Regions from separate parts of the Homo sapiens genome. Here region 2 is linked to region 1. Evidence: fine-mapped QTL for protein levels in blood plasma. A gene starts in region 1. The other region holds a variant in brackets. All regions are shown on one strand. Distances are between the middles of the regions.

Region 1 (2,911 bases):
TCTCCATATGAACTCTGAGTTGAGTGTTGTATAACAAGTTTCATTAAATTTTTCCCATCCAAGTTATGAAGCCCACTAACATCAGAATTGCACAGTTCCCTAAAAGGCTAGAACAATGCCAGAGTGGTTGCATTAGAAGCCAAGAGTAAGGCAAACAATGGGTCCACGTTTTAAATAAGATAAGTGTGCTTATCTGTATCTGACCCTGGAAACAAGCAACCACCTCTTGGGAGATGGAGATGCTCCATTAGTAACATTATGCACGTTTCTTAAGTAAAATAAGCAATCTTCTCCCTCATATGTTATGAAAAAATATTTCTTCAAAATCAACAGACTAGTCTTCCATTTATGGATTGTAAATGTCATCCAATTCAGGAAATCAAAAATTCTTCCTTTTTCTATGCCTATTTGCTTATGTTTCACACTTTGATGATGACAAGAACGTCAGGTTTGAAGGGTACCAGCGTGAAGCGCCAGCAGGTAGAGAAATCCGGGAGAGCCACAAAAGCATAGAAAGTATGGGTGATCAGACGCATTTCATTTCAAGTCTGATGAGCCTGCATTTAGGATTTTCCAGCTGGGCTGGTTTGCCAGGGCTTTTGGGAGACGGGGGCTTTTTATTTCTTCTCTCACACTCACACACACGGTCGGACACACACCTGGGACGTGTTCAAACTCTACGTACACTAGGTGGCTTATACGAATGTATATGTATATTTAAAAATAATACCTTGACATCTGACAAAGACACGAAGGCAACGTATGTGCAGTGAGTCTGGCTCTGAGAAACGTGCACAGCCCCGCAAGAAGTGCCCGTTAAAATGAAACATTTCTGAGGATGAGGACAGACATGGCAAGCGGGAGGGGCGGGGGCCGACAGACAATACAGAGACCCGCAGCTCCCCATCGCCAGGGCGCCACATGGACCCGGCGCGTCACCCCTGCTTACTGTGGGCTCTTGGGGTAGAAGGGCAGGGTCACATGGCTGAGATCCTGGATGTCGAAGGCGGTGGGCTCGGCGGAGATCGCCTGCCGCTTGGTGCGCGGCTCGCCCTGCAAGGTGCTCGCGCTCTGCTTCTGCGCCTGCTGGGTGGCTGGTCGGATCACCGAGCGGTACTTGTCCAGCTCGTTCTGCAGCTTCTGGATCAGTTCGTCCTTCTGATCCAACTCCAGCTCCAGCTCGTCGATGAGAGCATCCCGCTGCCTCAGCTCCTCGATCTTCTCCTGGAGCGCGTACTGTAAATCCCGCAAGGTGCCCATGCTCCTCCGGGCTGCCGGGGGCTCCTTCCTGCCGCTGCTCCGCGTCTTGAGGCTTCCTCCCCTCTCCGATCAACTTTCCCCAAAGTCGCCGCTGCCTCCCGAGTGCCAAAGCTTCCTACTTGAGACCAAAGCCAGCCCTGGCTTCTGAGCATGCCCAGTCCGCCGGCTCCAGCCACCCAGAGTTTCAGTGCAGATTCCACTTCTCTGGGCTGGCTGTGAGGCTCAGAGCGGGGAGAGCAAACCAGCAGGTCCAACCCGGGATTAAACCTGAGACGCGGTGGGCGCCGCGGCGCGGGGGAGAAGAGTCGGAGGCGCGGTGGCGGGGGAGCGGGAGGAGGGGACGTGAATGGGGGCTCCGAGGCAGCGGCTGGGCTCTCAGAGTCCCTCGCGCCGGGCGCCCAAGGAAGCTTGCGGGGCGTGCGGGGAGCCTGATAAGCCTCCGAGGCGCGCCGGGGGTGTGCGGGTGGAGCGAGGCGGGAGCGCTACTTCGGGGGTGGGGAGGTGGGAGGGAGGGGACAGGGAGGACCCCGGGCAAACTCGGGAGGCCTCAGCTGACTCCAGAGCAGACCAGCCTGGAGAATGTTGAGCTACGATCCTAGCGACGTACGAGGCATAGGGGACTCTGCATCATCAAAGCTCTGAGTTCTGGAGGTATTTTGACGGCCGGCCTCACTAAGGAAAGCTCCCGAGCGGTGTGGCCGAGCTGTCGCTTCTCCCACGCCACCTTTCCCACCCAGAGCGCCTCACACAGGTGGCTAACGCTTGCGAAGAAACTTGCCTCTCAGGAGATGCGAGCGAGTCGGCGCCCGCGAGGAATTCCCCCTTTCAGCCTACTACCTTTGGGAAAGGGTTGTGGGGTAGGGGGTGGGGTTTCCGATTTTAGCACCCGAGGCGTTGCTACTCTTCGCCTGCTCCAGATAGTTACTTTCCTTTCTGCCCCTTCCAAACTCTCATCGGGGAACTGTTTTAGGGCAAAGGCCAAAAACGGATTTGGGCCCTAGCAGGTCACTCAGCTTCCCCATGAGCCCTCCGCCTTGAGCTGGTGCCTGGGAATAGTTCTCGGATGGGCCTTGCTTCTTCCATTTGCTGAATTTGGCGGGGAGAGGGTGGGGGTTAAAAATCATTCCCGAGCTCCAAAAATTTCATCTTGAAACTGAATCATACCTTTAAAAATATTACTTTCCTCACAACCAAGCTGTTAGGAATGTATCTTTCCACTTGAATGGCCAGGAAGACATCCTGACACAAACTTTGAAGAAGAGGGAAAATCGTGAAGGAGCGAGGGAGACCACGCAGGCTGCAGTGAATTGTACACTATACTGCAGTCACCCCCACCTCTACCCACTCCCACCCTCATCCCTGCCCACTCAATATTCCCCAAAATGATCACAATTAGGTAACTTCCTTTCTATCCAAGTGTTACACTCCCATCATGGGAACACATGTTTAGAATCCCCAAATATCTGCCTAATACGTACCTAAATCCCTAATATTTGCTTAAGACATTACGAACTCATCCAATTTTATAGCATCTTTATTGGCAGATTTTTGATTACTATTCTTGGGCACTCAATATTATAATCCTCAATGCTCTATTTGGTTATTCCTTAACACTAAAACAAAGTGGACAGAAAATAAAATTGAATTGCAA
Region 2 (2,911 bases), 840 kb before region 1:
TAATTAGGAGATTCCCATAGGCAAGCACTAAACTGTAACTGGGAAATCGGCAAGATGGCTATCAGAGGCCTTCACATCCTTGTGGAGTGAACAGTAACTGACAACAGTTCAGCTCTCTCCCCGGGGCCTTATACTGGAAAATCAACAACTTCTACAAAAGTTTCTTTCTTCTTCAAAATATCCTTCTAAAGGTTTGGCCTTTGTTATATCTCCCTGGGATGGATAGGGAAAGGAGAAGGATGATAGAAGAAAAATGAGTCTTATTCCTTTCCCATGATCTTTCTGTCCTTAGCTTCCCACACCTTCTTTGTTTTCCACCTTGATTGTGTATCCTTGACAATCTCCTACCAGCAACCTCTACTCTACATGCCCTCATGATGAGTTCTTGTATTTCAGAAGGCATGCTCCCTGTCCTTGATGCATTTTTAATCTAGTTGTGGTAATAAAGCATCCAAATGCAAAACAGAACAATTTTGTTTCATTCATTGGGTCACTCGGGTAGCATGTATGCATTTATTGTAAGCCTACTCAGACTTCTGATTCAACAAATATTTATTGTTTATTTAATAAGTACCAGGCATAATTCTTCCACAAATCCTTGCTGTGCTGGAAACTTGGGATATATGTTAAGACATACCCTGTGCTTAGGTACTTACAGAAAACTGGGAGACAGACAAGTTCCAGGCAATATAGGATCAAGCATGCAGCTTTGTAGTACAAACTGTACAAAAGGATTAAGAAAACAACAAACAGGATAGAGTAGAATTAGTCAGGGTAAGCCACTTTAAAAAAAAAAGGTGGGGGGCTGTTCAATTTGACCTTAAAGAACATTTTTGGAAGAGGAAAGAGGAGTCAGGGAGAGACAACACTCTCATGCCTAGCAATTATTAACATCTGTAATGTAAACTGATTTGCACAAAGTCAAAGCAAAAAAAAAAATCTGCAGAATGGTATTGCACAGCAGGTCTATTTACAAGACAAATCATGTTACGTTTATTAAAATAATAATTTTTAGGTGTAAGTAATAAAAAAGAATGGTAGCTCTTCCCAGAGAGTGAAGAGGAGCTCACTTACAGAATCTCATAATAATTAAGGGAACACGTAGAACATGAGGCAAACAGAACATCCTTTCTCACAACAACTGCCATCTCCCTAAAGCCTTGGTTGGTCACGGTTTGTTCCTCATTAACATTGACTGATTTGAGGAATGCTCATTACTAAAATACTGCCTGCCCTGGTTCAGAGCCTTA[T/A]CTACCAGGAAACAGACTTATACCCCCTGGCCTAAGGAACTGCATGATTCCTTTTCCGCAGGGAAGCAGTAGGTTGCCCTTGCTATGGATTCAGAGAAGTACTCTGTAGTCAAAGGTCTTGGGGAGGCCTGGAACTGAATACCCACATTATCTCCTGCACCACGTTGTTTGATAACTCTCCCTAGCACAAACAAGCTTTGTATTCTGTGGCTAAAACTGAAAGCCCAACTGATTTTCTTATCTTTAGCCTGTTACTTGTAAGCACGAGTGGGCTTCTATTCTTCATTGATTTATGCCTTAGATGCCAACTGTGTACAAGCCCGTGAGCTAGGTTTTCTGGCAGCTACAAATATGTCTCGGATTAAGAAAAAAAAATAGTTGAAAATCTTGGGTCAGGGCAATTTATCTAATTCAGACCAGTGTGCATCACTTGTCCCTGTAAAAGGAATTTGGAGCTCATCGTGATCTGCTCAGATGCTATCAAATGGCATTTTGTAAGCAGATCTCACACACATGCTGAAGGCAGGCTACTAATTTACAGTTTCACACAAATCCACTATTTGTTTACAAACCCCATAAATGACAGCAAATCACACAAATACCAAGCAGGTTTGTGTATTCTTACAGAGCAACCATTTCGAACACTTTCCATGAATGTTTTCTAGAAAGCTGATTTATTGCAGATTGGTTTCCTATTTGCAGAGCACATACATTTTAATGAATTACAAGCAGCATGGAGCAAAGCATGCATATTCTGGCAATAAAATGTCTAGAAACACTTTGTTTCGGGTCTCGTGGAAAGCATAAAATGGATCCCTGTCACAACAAATTTAAAATGCTGACTGAGAAAAAGCTAATTACTCTCACAAAAAAAAAAATAAAAAAAAAATAAGTCAAGTCGATATTTTCAGAAGGAAGTACAACCTATTTAAAAGAAAGAGTCAGGGGTGGGAGAAGTTTTTCTTTTATTAATTCCGCAAACTTTCAAGTTACAATGCAGTATAGTACTGAAAGGTACTGATTCCAGGGTCGGATTGCATAGGGTAAAATACTTCCCCATTTAATTCGCTGTGTTATCTGAGGCTCAGTCTTCCCACCTGCACATTGGGACTAGGAATAATAAGAATAGTACTATTGTTATTACTCAGATGGGATTAGACAAATGGCCTTAGCCTGGCACAGAGTTTGCATCAATAAGTGGAAGGTATTACTGTTGTTTTAATCAAATGCATATAGGAACCCAGTTAAAGGAAATATGAATATAGTTTTGCTTTTAAGGAATTTATATCTCAAGTTATGTTCACATAACTAGACACCAATTTAAAGCAATGAACAAGCATTTGTTTTTTTCTATGTAATGATGGCTAAATTGACTTACAAAATATGGGAGAGGGACCTCTCTATAGGGAGAGAAATAAAAATCACTGAGAATTAGAACTAGGAAGATCTTTGTTGAGAATTAAATACAGAATCTCAGATAGATGCTAAAAAGTTAATATTGTTCAACCACTAAATCAACGTGTAAGTATCTACAACATCCCTACCAAATCTCTTTTACATGCCTACTTTTAAAACATGTATTATTTTTGTTAATACTTAAAATTTCATACTATACTTTGCCATCAGGATATTTGCATGGCTGTCAAGTCAAATGAGACCCC

Alleles and levels. Alleles are on the strand shown, and positions count from the first base shown. The strength of an association depends on the size of the effect and on how common the allele is.
For the plasma level of the protein whose gene starts at base 1,364 in region 1, T is the high allele of the variant in region 2 and A is the other (moderate association).

Evidence for each region. A credible set is the group of variants that fine-mapping cannot tell apart. PIP is the posterior inclusion probability: the model's chance that the variant is causal. Protein levels are from antibody-based Olink assays in UK Biobank. Linkage for the fine-mapping came from a reference panel and not from the study's own genotypes, which makes the PIPs less certain.
Region 2: its variant is the best candidate, but not a certain one, in a credible set for the plasma level of the PRKG1 protein (UK Biobank, PIP 0.69).

What each region holds. Positions count from the first base shown.
Region 1 is chr10:51,072,940-51,075,850 of GRCh38, reverse strand. It overlaps PRKG1 (protein kinase cGMP-dependent 1), which reads right to left and starts at 1,364. Exons shown (of 18, transcript NM_006258.4): 1 at 950-1,364. The coding sequence starts at 1,260.
Region 2 is chr10:51,917,562-51,920,472 of GRCh38, reverse strand. All of the region lies in intron 5 of PRKG1 (protein kinase cGMP-dependent 1), which reads right to left. Among named protein-coding and RNA genes, the nearest start is that of CSTF2T, 220 kb to the right of the region's middle. The variant T/A (reference allele first, on the strand shown) is at 1,251.